Linked DNA regions of Homo sapiens. The protein of the gene in region 1 interacts with the protein of each later gene in a pairwise test. Each region holds a gene or a part of one and is shown on either strand. Other genes may lie near its edges.

What was found. The genes of interacting proteins can lie anywhere in the genome.
Region 2: the proteins of CRX (region 1) and CIMIP4 interact in binary tests that used the Homo sapiens proteins (3 or more experiments, as listed by UniProt).

What each region holds. Positions count from the first base shown.
Region 1 is NC_000019.10:47,817,035-47,824,961, reverse strand, and holds the start of CRX (cone-rod homeobox protein), read right to left. Parts: upstream 3,026-7,927; 5' UTR 2,952-3,025; intron 1-2,951. Other genes in the region: TPRX1 (tetra-peptide repeat homeobox protein 1), read left to right, coding at 5,911-5,990, 6,424-6,494. UniProt on the Homo sapiens protein: Transcription factor that binds and transactivates the sequence 5'-TAATC[CA]-3' which is found upstream of several photoreceptor-specific genes, including the opsin genes.
Region 2 is NC_000022.11:36,990,831-36,997,855, reverse strand, and holds the end of CIMIP4 (ciliary microtubule inner protein 4), read left to right. Parts: intron 1-6,264; coding exon 6,265-6,375; intron 6,376-6,579; coding exon 6,580-6,677; 3' UTR 6,678-6,731; downstream 6,732-7,025.

The sequences.
Region 1 (7,927 bases):
GGGGAGGAAAAAAAAAAAAGAATGTCCAGGAATTCATCACTCGGCAGACACTTGGCCCAGGCTTTATATACAAGATCTCACAATGACAACAATTTCCAGACACTGATGTTTTATGATTTCAAGGGGTGGAACAAAGAATATCAGTGTCTCTGCCCTGGGGATCAACCTGGGAGGCCCCAGGCTGATTCTCAGAGCTGTGGGGTTCGGCACTCACTGGGTCCCAGGTTCCCAGCTGAGCAGTTGTTCCCACAGGTGAGGTCTGAATGCTCACAGCCACCTGGTGGGGCAGACATGCAGATAACTCCATTCTACAGCGGGGGAGACTGAGCCTGGGAGGGAGGGAGGTGCCCACAGTTCAGGTGGCTGATGACCTTAAGGACCTCCAGGGGGCCCCAGCTTCTCACACACTGCATGCACCATGGACCTTGGGAACAAGATCTCAGGCAACAGTAACTCCATGGAAACTTCCTCCCAGGCGGCTTCTGGTATCATCCCCACTTTACAGAGAAGGAAACTGAGGCTGAGAGAAGTGTAGTCTCCAGTTCTGTCTCGCACGTCAGCGGCAGAGCCAGAGCTGGGCCAGCACCTGCCCCGGAGCCGGTGCCCTCCTGATCACCCGGCGATATGGCCTCTTAGGATGCTCCCCACAGCCCCACGGAGCTCAGAGGTCCCTTTCTCAGAGGAGGAAACTGAGGCTGAAAGAGGTTTCGTCAATTCCCGAGGTCACACAGGTGATGAGTGGAAGAACCAGGGGTAAAATTTAAATCTCTTTGGCCCCCGAGCCCCGCTCTTCACCCCCAAGTCTACCTAGGGACCCTAGAAACAGAATGAGGCTGGTCTCCTGCCCTGCTCCCACTGCAGGCCAGGCCTGCAATATGGCTCATCTGGCTGGATCATGGTGACAGCTTATCATTGTCCCCACTTTGCAGAGGAGGCAACCAAGGCCCAGAGAGCCCACATGAGGGGTCCAAGGCCACACAGTGAGAAAAGAACAAGATTTAAACGCAGACTCGGCCGGGTGTGGTGGCTCACGCCTGTAATCCCAGCACTTTGGGAGGCCGAGGCAGGTGGATCACCTGAGGTCAGGAGTTTGAGACCAGCCTGGCTAACAAGGTGAAACCCCATCTCTACTAAAAATACAAAAATAAGCCAGGCATGGTGGTGCACGCCTGTAATCCCAGATACTTGAGAGGCTGAGGCAGGAGAATCGCTTGAACCTGGGAGGTGGAGGTTGCACTGAGCTGAGGTCATGCCACTGCACTCCAGCCTGGGCCACAGAGTGAGACTCCGTCTCAAAAAAAAAAAAAAAAAACCAGACTCATGTGGCTTCATGCCAGCCCTTGGCAAGACCCTCCCAGCTCAGCCACATTCAGGGCCCTCCCTTGTCAGCCACTCCAGCCTCTCTCTGCAGCCTCTGTTGGCTCCTCTGTCCAGCGGGGACAAGGAGCTGGGTGGATGCACCCACTGCCGGCCATGAGACCTGGGGGAAGCTGGGATCCACGGCACAGTTAGAGCCTGAGCAAATCAACTCCGTGATCAACAATGTGATCCCTGAAGCATCCAGAAATTCACACACAGTGGGCAGCCCTGAAGTCGGACCTCACTCTGTGGCAATCACAGCCCTCGCTCGTTCCTTTTGGGAAAACCGCATCACACCTCCTCTCTGTGGCAGTCTGTCTACCTGCTTCTACCCTTCTGCCCTTCATTCATTCATTCATTCCCTGCATATTCACTGAGCACTCACTGTGTGTCTAGGACTGACCCAAGCACTGGGAATACAGCCGAGAGCAAGACAGACAAGGCCTCAGCCCTCCTGACAGGGGCAGACGGGAAACAAGGTGTCAATCAAGAGTTTTGCAGGAGACCGGCTGGGCGCAGAGGCTCATACCCATAATCCCAGCACTTTGGGAGGCTCAGGCGGGCTGATCACTTGAGGTCAGGAGTTCGAGACCAGCCTGGACAACATGGAGAGACCCCCCATCTCTACTAAAAATACAAAAAATAGCTGGGCATGGGGGCACGCGCCTGTAATTCCAGCTACTCAAGAGGCTGAGGTGGATGGACTCCTTGGACCTAGGAGGTAGAGGTTGCAGTGAGTGGAGATCGTGGCACTGCACTCCAGCTTGGGCAACAGAGCAAGACTCCATCTCAAAAACAAACAAAAAAAAACTTTGCAGAAAGAAGATCAGAGAGAGTGACTGTGCTGGAAGCTAAGAGGGCGGGGGCGTGAGGATTCCCCAGTCCCGAAGTAGAGCCTGGGCTGAAAGCCAGAGCCTCTGGGTGCATTGAGGCCCTAAGTGATCAATTCACCAGCACAGTGATCCCCAGTCATCACATTCCTGGCTCTCTCGGGCAGGCCCAAGTCCACCCGGAGTTCTTCCTGTTGCAGCCACAGACCTGGGCTCTCTGCGTATATGTCTGTTCCGTCCCTTGTCTGTCATTCATCCATCCATCTATGCAACACATATTTAGGCAAATCCCAACCACACGCTGGGCACTGGGGAAAAATCAGTGCTCAACAAGGGAGGGAGACAGGCCATTTGTGGATCATCGCGCAAATGAAAATTTCAGGCAGTGCTAAGAGTTTTAAAGAACATCCAACAGAGCGGTATGCTGAGGAGTTGCCTTAGAACCACGGTGAGAAGCCCCCAACCCCGGATGCCGTCAGGGCTTGAGGGGACCCCCTTGCCCACAAGCCACCCTGAATCCTCCCAATGCCCCGAGTGCCATCAGCCAGTCCCTGCTGTCTAACCTTACTCCCTCCTGCTGCAATCACAGCCTAGCCCCGTTTCCACAAATGCCAGGACGGCACCTCTGTTTTGTGTGTGACTATTCAGCAAACATCACCTGCAGAGCACGGCAAACACAGCCACGAATAAGATAAACCCAACTTCTCCCCTCTCTTTTTTCTCCCCTCCTCGGTCCCCTCCGCCTCTCCTGCAGACGCTCACCTTCAGAAAGGAGGGACGGGGCTCTCCCGTGGCCCAGGACCTAGACAGAGCGGCCAGACAGCAGAGGCTGAAGGAAACACATCCCCTCACATGGGGAGATTTTAAGCCTGGGCCGGGAGTGATGTCATTTGTCATGGCCTGGAACTCGGAGGGTAATCCCGGCCAAGGTGGGGGACTCGACTGGGCACCAGGAGGTGACATTGGCTGGGAGGGGGAGGGGCACCCGTCTGCTTAATCCCCTCCTCTTCCCCCCATGACATCTTGGCAATTAGGGCTGATGGGGAAGGGAGGCCCCAGCTCCTGCCGGTGACCATAAGCCCCTACTCCTCAGGGAAGTCCTTCCTTAGGTCTAACTGGTGTCTCTCCAGCTTCAGCTAGTATCCCAAGAGAGAGGCATCAAAGAGGAAGGAGAGCACTGTCAGATGGTCCTGAGAGATCGTCTGAAAAAAGAGAGGCACGGAGCTTTCGGGATCCCTCTCCTGGGTCCCCCTTTCTCTCCACAACAGTCTGTCCGACAGCTAGTTTATCTCTGTAGTGCCTCATTGGTCTCGGTTTCTGCCTCAGTTTCCCCTGTTTCTCTCTCTTTGACTTGGTCAAGTCTTGTCTGTGGCCTCTCTGTCTCTGTGTTGTCAGACATGATATTCTCCTCTTTTTGGGGGCGGAGGTGGCAGGGGCTGCTTCCAGCACTGAAAATAGGCAGACTTATTAGAAAGGGTGTTTTGTTTTTCTGTTTTTGGTGGAGTTTGGGGTTTGGGATTTTTTTCTTTTTTTTTTCCTTTTTTTTTTTTTTGGTTGAGACAGGGTCTCACTCTGTCGCCCAGGCTGGAGTGCAGTGGCATGATCACAGCTCACTGCAGCCTTGACCTCCTGTGCTCAAGGGATCCTCCCTCCTCAGCCTCCCCAGTAGCTGAGACTTTACAGGCACATACCACGATGCCCAGCTAATTTTTTTATTTTCGTAGAGATGGAGTCGCTCTATGTTGCCCAGGCTGGCTTCAAACTCCTGGCCTCAAGCAATCCTCCCACCTCGGCCTCCCAAAGTGCTGGGATTGCAGGCGTGAGCCAACAAACCCAGCACTCACCATCTCTCTACACACCATTGGTCTTTGTCTGGCTTCTCTGTACCTCAGTTTCTTTTCCTGTGGGCCTTAGGCTGTGGCATTTCTGCCTACTTTCCTGAATACCACTCTTTCATTCTCCATCTGCTCCTCTCCGTCCCTGTCTCTGTTGATAAACCTGCATTATCCCCTTGGTCTCTCTTATTCTTTTTCTCTGTGTCTCCCTGTCTATCTTGCTCTTTCTCCCCTCTCCCTCAGCCTCCATGTCCTTCTGTTCCTGTCTGTCTGTCCCTCCCTTTGCTGTCTTTCTGCCTGTCCACCTGTCCCTGTAACTCCAGCCTCATCTCTGTCCCTCTGTCCTCGCTTATCCTCTGCAGCTCCAATCTCTGTTCCTCCTTCTCTTTTTCCCTGTCTCTCTCTCTCTCTCTCTCTCTCTCTGATTCTTGCTTCCCCTCTCCCTGGATTGCCCTTCATTTCTGTTTTGTTTTGTTTTTGTTTGGAGACAGAGTCTTGCTCTGTCACCCAGGCTGGAGTGCAGTGGCACCATCTCGGCTCACTGCAACCTCCACCTCCCCGGTTCAAGCAATTCTCCTGCCTCAGCCTCCCGAGTAGCTGGGAGGATTTCCTTTCATTTCTGTCCTTCTCCCTGTCTTGGTACCTCTGTTGCTCTGTATTTCTGATTTTCCTGGTCTCTGGCCCTCTTTGTGTCTCTCTCCTCTCGTCTGTCTCTCTAGATATTAATATGTCCCTGAGCTCCTGGGTCCCACACGGGTCTGTTTCACTTCCCCGTGCACCCAAACACGCACGCAAGCACACACACACACACACACACACACGCCCGGTAATCCCTCCTTGTGGCTGGGTCATTGTGTCTCAGCCATAAGGGGCCCTTTCTTTCTCCTCCTCCCTCCCCCAAACCCCCTGCTAGGAGAGATTAAGGCTACAGGCCTGGCTGAGGAATCAGGACAGGTCTCATTAGCTTGAAGAGCCAGGGATGACAGCAAGAGAGGGAGGGGCCGTCTGACCCTCGGCGACCAGTCCAGAGGCTCCTGATGGGAGAATCCAGTCCTGGAACAGACCCCCTGGCCCTGCAGCAGGGAAGGAAGGTCAGCTGTACAGGGAGAGGGAGGAGAAAATAACTTCCAGCGGGACAGAGAAGGTGTCAGCAACTCTTAAATCACCTGCCCTGGGGAATCTGGGTACTGGTTGGCTCCTGGATCCAGAGTCCTTCCAGGGGTGGGGGTACAGAGAGGTGGGTTTCAGCTGGTCCTGCACATGGCCCTGGGATCAAGTAAGCTGAAATCAAATCCAAGCACTTCTTCTCTGAGCTAGGTCTTCTGAGGCAACTTGCTTTCCTTCTCATCTCCACCCAGTGGCTCAGGCAGAAATCTGGGCACTCAGCCTGGCCCCTAACCCCTTTCTCCTCACCACTTACATCCAATCCATCCATAAGTCCTGTCATCTCTTCTATCAGATCATTATCCTACTGAAACAATATAAAGCACTGCTGGAAGAAATTAAAGGAGACTCAAGTCAATAGTGAACTATACCATGTTCATGGTTTAGAAGACTCAATGTTATTAAGAGGTCAATTCTTCTCAAACTAATCTTTAGATTTACTGCAATCCCAATCAGAATCTCATCAGGATTTTTCTGTAGAAATTGATTGTCAAACTGATTCTGAAGTTGCTATGGAATATAAATGATCTAGAATAATCAAAGCAGTCTTGGAAAAATAAAACGAGTTGGAGAACTTACGCTACCTGACTTTGAGACTTATTGTAATGCACATGATTGCAGCTGGAAAAAGTGGGGTTAAGGATTAAGAAAATGTGGCACATATACACCATGGAATACTATGCAGCCATAAAAAAGGATGAGTTCATGTCCTATGCAGGGACATGGATGAAGCTGGAAACCATCATTCTGAGCAAACTATCACAAGGACAGAAAACCAAACACCGCATGCTCTCGCTCATAGGTGAGAATTGAACAATGAGAACACTTGGACACAGGGTGGGGAACATCACACACAGGGGCCTGTTGTGGGGTGGGGGGCAGGGGGAGGAATAGCATTAGGAGAAATACCTAATGTAAATGATGAGTTAATGGGTGCAGCAAACCAACATGGCACATGTATCCATATGTAACAAACCTGCACGTTGTGCACATGTACCCTAGAACTTAAAGTATAATAAACAAAAAAAGTGGGGTTAAATTCTGGGGACAGTCTGAAGATGTATGGAATACTGGAGGATCCTTGGATCAGGTTGTTGATGAGTTTCACTCCAGGCTCTACTGCAGGATGGGGGTGCTCCTCATACCTGCACCCCCTTAGCTCCCTAACACATTCATCCTATTTAATCTTTTGCAAAACTCTTACTGACATCTTGTTTCTTGTCTGCCCTTGTCAGGAGGATGGGGCCCTGTCTGTCTTGTTCTCAGCTGTATTCCCAGTACCTAGGACTGTCCCAGACACACAGCAGTAAGTGTGTGTTCAATAAATGTGAAAGAAATGGATGGATGGATGGACGGAGGGATGGATGGATGGATGGATGGATGGAGGGATGGATGGGTGATGGATGATGGATGGATGGATGGATGGATGGATGATGGATGGATGGATGGATGGATGGATGGGTGATGGATGGGTGGATGGATGGATGGATGGGTGATGGATGGATGGATGGATGGATGGATGGATGGGTGATGGATGGGTGGATGGATGGATGGATGGATGGGTGATGGATGGATGGATGGATGGATGGTGGGGCAGAACCAGGTAGAGACACTGGCACAGAGAAGTGGTGTGATGTTTTCCCAAAAGGACCAAGGGTCTGTGATTGCAGCACTGTGAGGTCAGACTGTGGGGCTGCCCACTAGTGTTTGAATCTCTGGATGCTTCAGGGATCATATTGTTCCTGAGTTAATTCATTCAGGCTCTAACTGTGCCATGAATCCCTGCTTCTACCAGGTCCCATGCCTGGTAGTGGGTGCATCCACTCAGCTCCTTGTCCTCACTGGACAGAGGAGCCTACGGATGCGGCAGAGAGAGGCTGGCAGGGCCAACAAGGGAGGGCCCTGAACATGGCTGAGTCGGGAGGGTCTTGCCAAGAGCTGGCATGGAGCCACATGAGTTTGGGTTTAAATCCTGTTGTTTTCTCACTGCGTGGCCTTGGGCCCTTCATATGGGCTCCTGGGCCTCAGTTTCCTCCTCTGCAAAGTGGATACAGTGACAAGCTGTCACAATGAGCCCTGGGAATCCCATGGGAGCAGGGGAGGAAGCTGACCTCATCCATCTTCTAGGAATCCCAGGCAGACTCGGGGGTGAAGAGCGGGGCTCGGGGGCCAAAGAGATTTAAATTCTACCCCTGGTTCTTCCACTCATCACCTGTGTGACCTCGGAAATTGACGAAACCTCTCTCAGCCTCAGTTTCCTCCTCTGAGAAAGGGACCTCTGAGCTCCGTGGGGCTGTGGCGAGCATCCTAAGAGGCCATATCACCTGGTGATCAGGAGGGCACAGGCTCCGGGGCAGGTGCTGGCCCAGCTCTGGCTCTGCCGCTGACGTGGGAGACAGAACTGGAGACTACACTTCTCTCAGCCTCAGTTTCCTCCTCTGTAAAGTGGGGATGATACCAGAAGCCGCCTGGGAGGAAGTTTCCATGGAGTTATTGTTCCCTGAGATCTTGTTCCCAAGGTCTGTGGTTCATGCAGTGTGTGAGAAGCTGGGACCTGTGGGCACCTCCCTCCTTCCCAGGCTCAGTCTCCCTGCCTGTAGAATGGAGTTATCTGTGTGTCTGCACCACAAGGTGGCTGTGAGCATTCAGGCCTTACCTGTGAGAACAACTGCTCAGGTGGGAACCTGGGACCCAGTGGGTGCCGAACTCCACAGCTCTGAGAACTAGCCTTGGGCCTCC
Region 2 (7,025 bases), on another chromosome or scaffold:
GTTTGAGGTTGGTGAGGCTGGTATGGCTGCACAGGAGTGAGGCAGAAGACATCAGAGGAAACAGGCTGGGTCGTGAAGCCTGCTGGAAGGTCTTTACTCGGAGTGAGATGAGAAACCAAGCCGGGATTTTAAGCAGGAGAATGGCCCTGTTTGGCTCAGGTTAAGGGCTCACTCCAGTTGCTATGGGGAGAATGGACATAGGGAGATGGGGCAGAAACAGGGAAACTGGTAGGAGGCAGCTGCAAAACTCCAGATGGGACAGATGATGGTGGCTTGGTGTTGGAAGCTGGGCTAGTGCACCTGCGCTATTTTGGAAGGCACCATTGTGCAATATAGCAGCTCAGGGAGGTAATGGTGAAGGTGGCCTGATGTAGTAGGATTCTGGATATTTGTATAAGGCAGAGAGAAAAGAATATGCTAATGAATAGATTTTGGGGTGAGAGAGGAATTAACGTTGACTTCAACGTTTTGACCTGAACAACTGGAAGGATGAGATGGCTATTTACTGAATTAGAGAAGCTGCCAGGGGGAGCAGGTTGAGGGACTCCTATCCTATGCTAAATCGTAGATCATCTTTTACACAGTCTTCTAAAATTTTTAGTTTTGCTTTTCACATTTAACTCTTTAATCCACCTGGGGTTGATTTTTGTTTTTAGTATGAAGTAGGGATTCATTTTCAAAAACTGTAGATGGCTTTTGTGAGTTTTAGCCATTTAAGAAAGTAGTAAAACTGAGGCTTGAGGAAACTTTAGGCAGCTTGCCCAGCTGTATAAAGAGTGAGATGACGAGCTCAGGCATTCCTTGGGCATCTGTGTGCCCAGCCCTCAAAATAATGGAACAACAACACCAGAAATCTTTCCCCAGTAGGGATTCATTTTCAATTCCTTCTTTATGTGGGTTACTGACTGCCTCAGTACCTTTTATTGAATAGGCTCATCTTTCCTCCCGGTGACCTGCAGTGGTACTTCTGTTATCCATCAGGTTTTGACACATGCATAGATCAGTTTCAGGCTCTATTCTGTCCATTGGTCTAATATTACATTTTTAATCACCAAAGTATTATAAGTAGCCTGATATCTGGTCAGGCAATACTCCCACTACCACCCCTCCACCACCATCACCAGTTAATGTCTTGGGTTTCTAGGCCCTTTACTCTCCCATACAAATGTTATTAATAAACAGAAATTTCCATGAAAAACCCTGTTGGGATTTTGATTGGAAATACATTGAATCTACAGCTCAATTTAAGGGCTGTTGTCAGCTTTATAATGAATTTTCTAATATATGAATATGGTATATACCTCCATTAATTTAAGTCTTCCTTCGATATCTCTCAGTAACATTTTGTGATTTTTTTTTTTCTATAAACATCATGCAGGTTTTTTTGTTAGACTTACTCAGGAGAATCTCTTTTTTTGCTGCTGTTGAAAATGATATCTTTTTAAAATTATATTTTCTAACTTTGCTGCTGATACCGTATACACAAATGCAATTTTTGTTTTTGTATATTAATCTCGTATCCAGAAGCTTTATGCAGCTCACCAATTAATTCCAGTAATTAGTTATTGATTCTTTAGGAGTGCTTTTGAATAGTAATAATGGCTACATTTATGCATAGTATTTAACATATGCCAGGTACTGCTCTGAGTACTTTATATATATATTTTATTCTGCACATGAATCCCATGTGGTAAATGCTACAATTCCCATTTTTTTTTCCAGATAAAAAATAATTGAGTCATGGAAAAGTTAAATAACTTAATTAAGGCCACACAGATAGGGACGGTCAGAATTGGGATTTAAACCCTGCCAGTCAGAGGCTAGAGTTTAAATTCCTAAACACTAGGCTTTTCTTACCTTTATATCAGCATCTGGCTGACCTCTCTAGGACAATGGTGTCTATAAGCAGGAAAAACAGGCATCCTTATCTCCTTCTTGATTCTAACATTACATCATTAAATATAATATAGTCTGTTTTCATACTGCTGATAAAAACATACCTGAGACTGGGTAATTTATAAAGAAAAAGAGGTTTAATAGACTCACAGTTCCATGTAGCTGGGGAGGCCTCACATCATGGTGGAAGGTGAAAGGCACGTCTTACACGGTGGCCGACAAGAGAGAATGGGAACCAAGTGAAAGAAGTTTCCCCTTATAAAGCCATCAGATCTCATGAAATTTATTCACTACCATGGAAACAGCATGGGGGAAAATGGAGCTGGCTCTGGGTCTTAGTCTGGCTTTGGGTGTCCTGAGAGTTTGGTGAACTTCATGTGGGGAGAGTATTGGCATGGCCGTGAGTCCTGGGTGTATAGGCTTCCCACAGACAGGGCTGCGGGGGAACCATGTGGGATGGCCTGCAGGAATATGGCCACGGTGAGTGGCCCTTTGTGTATTTTCTGCCTCCCAACTCACCGTGGCTCCAGCTTCAGAAGGAGGTCAGAGCAGAACACCCCTGTGGGCTAACATGAAGGTCCTCATCTGCTCCATGCAGCAGGGCTGGGAGGGGAGAGTAGAGGGTCAGCCCATGGTAAGGACAAGCCACATACAAATCAAAACCTTGGCTGGGCTCACCTGGACATTGTGTCTTTGAGTCACAGAGCAGGCAGAATGGTAGCTTACGTCCTGTCCTTTTCCCTCTGTGTCCAGGTATCCAGGGATCCCTGAACCAGCTTACCAAGGATTTTCTTTTTTTCACTTCTTTCCATTGTTGGAATTCTGATTTCCTCTATTTGGTGTCTTCCTCTTTCTTGGTTTGCTCTCTTGTCTTTGGGGTGGATTCCATCTCCCAGCTTGATGTGACTGTCATTGGAGAACACAGCCCTGTAATGATTTCAATCCTTTGAAATTGTTCAGATTTGCTTTAGAGCCCAGTAGATGGTGATTTTTGTAGATGATCTGTGTGTGCTTAAGAATAATCTCTCCAGGCCGGGCGCAGTGGCTCACGCCTGTAATCCCAGCACTTTGGGAGGCCGAGGCGGGTGGATCATGAGGTCAGGAGATCGAGACCATCCTGGCTAACAAGGTGAAACCCCGTCTCTACTAAAAATACAAAAAATTAGCCGGGCGCGGTGGCGGGCGCCTGTAGTCCCAGCTACTCGGGAGGCTGAGGCAGGAGAATGGCGTGAACCCGGGAAGCGGAGCTTGCAGTGAGCCGAGATTGCGCCACTGCACACCAGCCTGGTGACAGAGCAAGACTCCATCTCAAAAAAAAAAAAAAAAAAATCTCAGGAGGCGGAGCCAGGCAGATCACAAGGTCAAGAGATCGAGATCATCCTGGCCAATATGGTGAAACCCTATATCTACTAAAAATACAAAAATTAGCTGGCATGATGGCGCATGTCTCTACTAAAAATACAAAAATTAGCTAGGCGTGATGGCGCACGCCTGTAATGGCTTCTCAGGAGGCTGAGGCAGAAGAATCGCTTGAACCCGGGAGGCGGAGGTAGGCGGAGGTTATAGTGAGCGGAGATCGCGCCACTGCACTCCAGCCTGGTGACAGAGCAAGACTCCCTCTCAAAATAATGATAATAATAATAATAATAACAATCTCTTGGGTAAGGGATTCTGCATTTGTCTATAGAACAGGCTTGTTAATAATTTCTGCACAAATCTTCTAATCCTTATTAATATGCTTTGCTTGATCTATTAGTTACTAAAATATGTGTCTTTAAATCTCCCTCTATAATAGCAGCTTTGTCCATTTGTCCTGTGGTTCTGTCAATTTTGCCTTATCTATTTTGAGATTATTTCAATGTAGCAAGTTCAGAATCATTACATTACCTTAATGAATTGCAATTGTTTTTGTTTTTCATCGTGCCGTTGCCCTACAGTCTATTTCACCTGATATAGTTAGACCAGACTGCTTTTGGTTAGTGTTTGCCTGGGTATATCTTTTTCTGTTCTTCCATGTTTATCCTCTCTTTGTGTCCTTTTAAATATGCCTTCAATGATACATACCTGGAAAACATTTTCTGTAGTGTCATCATCTGGTTTTTAACGAATGGGTTTAATTCGTTCATATTGATTCTCGTTACTGATATAGACTATTTGGGTTTATTTCCATGATCTTATTTTTCGTTTTCTATTTGTGCTGCTTTTTCTTTTCTTTTCTTTTCTTTTTTTTTGAGATGGAGTCTCACTCTGTTGCCCAGGCTGGAGTGCAGTGGCGCGCTCTCAGCTCACTGCAAGCTCCGCCTCCTGGGTTCACGCCATTCTCCTGCCTCAGCCTCCCAAGTAGCTGAGACTACAGGCGCCTGCCACAACGCCCGGCTAATTTTTTTTTTTGTATTTTTAGTAGAGACGGGGTTTCACCGTGTTAGCCAGGATGGTGTGCTGCTTTTTCTTTGTGGCTTCTTTTTCTCTCTCTTTTTGGATTTACATCAGCTTTCTTATTTTTCTCAATCTGATATTTGTTCTTTTCTACTCCTCTTATTCTTTGAGTGGTTACCTTTGACATTTTTATATGCGTAATTAACAAATTATAAAGTTAATCTAGGCATTTGTGTTTTCCTGAACACTAAGGGCCTTAGAAGGCTTTAACTTTGGCTGGGCGCCGTGGCTCACACCTGTAACCCCAGCACTTTGGGAGGCCGAGATGGGCGGATCACAAGGTCAAGAGATCCAGACCATCCTGGCTAACATGGTGAAACCCCGTCTCTACTAAAAATACAAAAATTAGCTGGGTGTGGTGGCGCATGCCTGTAATCCCAGCTACTCAGGAGGCTGAGGCAGGAGAGTAGATTGAACCTGGGAGATGGAGGTTGCAGTGAGCCAAGATTGAGCCACAGCACTCCAGCCTGGAGACAGAGCGAGACTCCGTCTCAAAAAAAAAAAAAAGAAAAAAAAAACTTTAATTAACTTTAATTACTCTCCCGACCTCCACCTCAGCTTACATGTTATTATTTTATAGAATTTATATATGTATTATATATAGGATTTAGATATATGTATATATAGAATTTATATATATATTCTCGGCCTCCCAAAGTGCTGGGATTACAGGCGTGAGCCACCGCGCCCAGCCCACATCTTTTTATTTCTTTGTATTGCATCCTAATATTAATTTCTTTAGGTATATCTTCCAGTTTACCATTTTCTCTCAGCTTTATTTGATCTGCTATTTTATCTGTTAATTGAATTTCTTTTTAAACTTTTATGATGGCAATTTTCAAGCTTATGGAAAAGAAGAGAACTTAGTTTATAAATAGATGTTGCATATACCACTCAGCCTCAACAATGATTAATACATAGCCGATCTTGTCTCATCTTTTCTCCCACCCATCCACTCCCACCCAAGATTATTTCAAAGCAAGTCCCAGGCATCTTATTGCCATGGAGTTTAATTTTTTTTCAATTATTATGTGTTTCATTTCTGAAATTCCGTTTGCTTCTCTTACTAATCTATCTGCTCTTTCTGGATGGTTTCTTACTCTTTGCTTATATTTTTATTCTCTCTTATGGTTTCAATCATTAAATATAGGTTTTTTGTTTGTTTGTTTGTTTGTTTGAGACAGAGTCTCTCTCTGTTGCCCAGGCTGGACTGCAGTGGCACGATCTCGGCTCACTGCAACCTCCGCCTCCCGGGTTCAAGCAATTCTCCTACCTCAGCCTCCTGAGTAGCTGGGATTACAGGAGCCCGCCACCACGCCCAGCTAATTTTTGTATTTTTAGTAGAGACGGGGTTTCACCATGTTGGTCAGGCTGGTCTCGAACCCCTGACCTCGTGATCCACCCGCCTTGGCCTCCCAAAGTGCTGGGATTACAGGCGTGAGCCACTGCCCCCGGCCTAAATATACTTATTTTGTATTCTGTATCTGATCATTCAAATCTTTGCTAATTTGGGAGATTTTGTCCTTTGGTGTTTCTGCTGACTCTTGATCATTGCAACGTATCTGCTTGTGCATGTTTGAATTTTGAAAACAGAGATAAGTTTTCCTAAGTTACAGGTATTAGTTGCCACTTGCTAGATGTCTTGATGAATGTCCAATAATTTTGTCTTTCCAACCATGCAAAAAAATCTCATTTCTTGGTATAGTTGAAGACACTGAAGCTCAGAGAGGTTAAAAATTTCTCTGAGGCTATACTACCCATAAATAATGGAGTCTGGGTTTGAACCCAAACGACTTTACTTTGAAACCCTTCCCACTCTCCTTCCGTTCCACAATTTACCATCCGTAGAGGAAACTGACACCCAATATAAGCCATGGAGTACCCGACTGCCACTGAATTGGGCACTTGGGGTTTCTTCATGGTATTCTACAGGGGCTGCTGAGGAGACAAAGAGCCTCATGAAGGCTTCTTACACACCAGAGGTCATTGAGAAATCAGTGAGGGACTTAGAACACTGGCATGGCAGGAAGACGGATGATCTGGGTAAGTGAGGAGCTGCGGGTGATGGGAGGCAGGGACTGTCCTCCACCAGCAGGGTGTGTTGGCTCTAAGGGTCAGAGAGAAACCAGAGCAGGAGACAGAGCCGGGGTGGACTTGGAAGAGGTACGAGTCATCCCTGGGGTCTGGGCAACTCCAGAGACTGCCAGATGATCTAATCTGTGCTGGCTCTTCTCCTGCTCGCTGTAGGGCGGTGGCACCAGAAAAATGCTATGAACCTGAACTTGCAGAAAGCACTGGAAGAGAAATATGGAGAAAACAGCAAATCCAAGAGCTCCAAGTACTAGTTTTGACACAGTAGAGGTGTCTTCTACTCAAATAAAGTGCTAACAATAAGGAAAGGCTCAGGTCCGAGTCCTCCTGTGCTTGGTGCCTTTCTTCACACTGGAGTAGAGGCCGATATGTGGTGTTGGAGAGACCAACTGGGGGAAGATAGAAGCCCTGGGGTCCCAAACTATTCCCTAGTCCTCCCTCCTGCACACACATGCACACACACGTACCTTCATCCATTATCCCAGGAAAGGACATGAGAGCTGGGCATGACTCTGTCTCAAGCCCAGGGTGCCTGGCTTCTCCCACATGCCCTATGTGAGGGGGTCCTATAGTGGACACTGCTGGATCTTACCCTACATGCT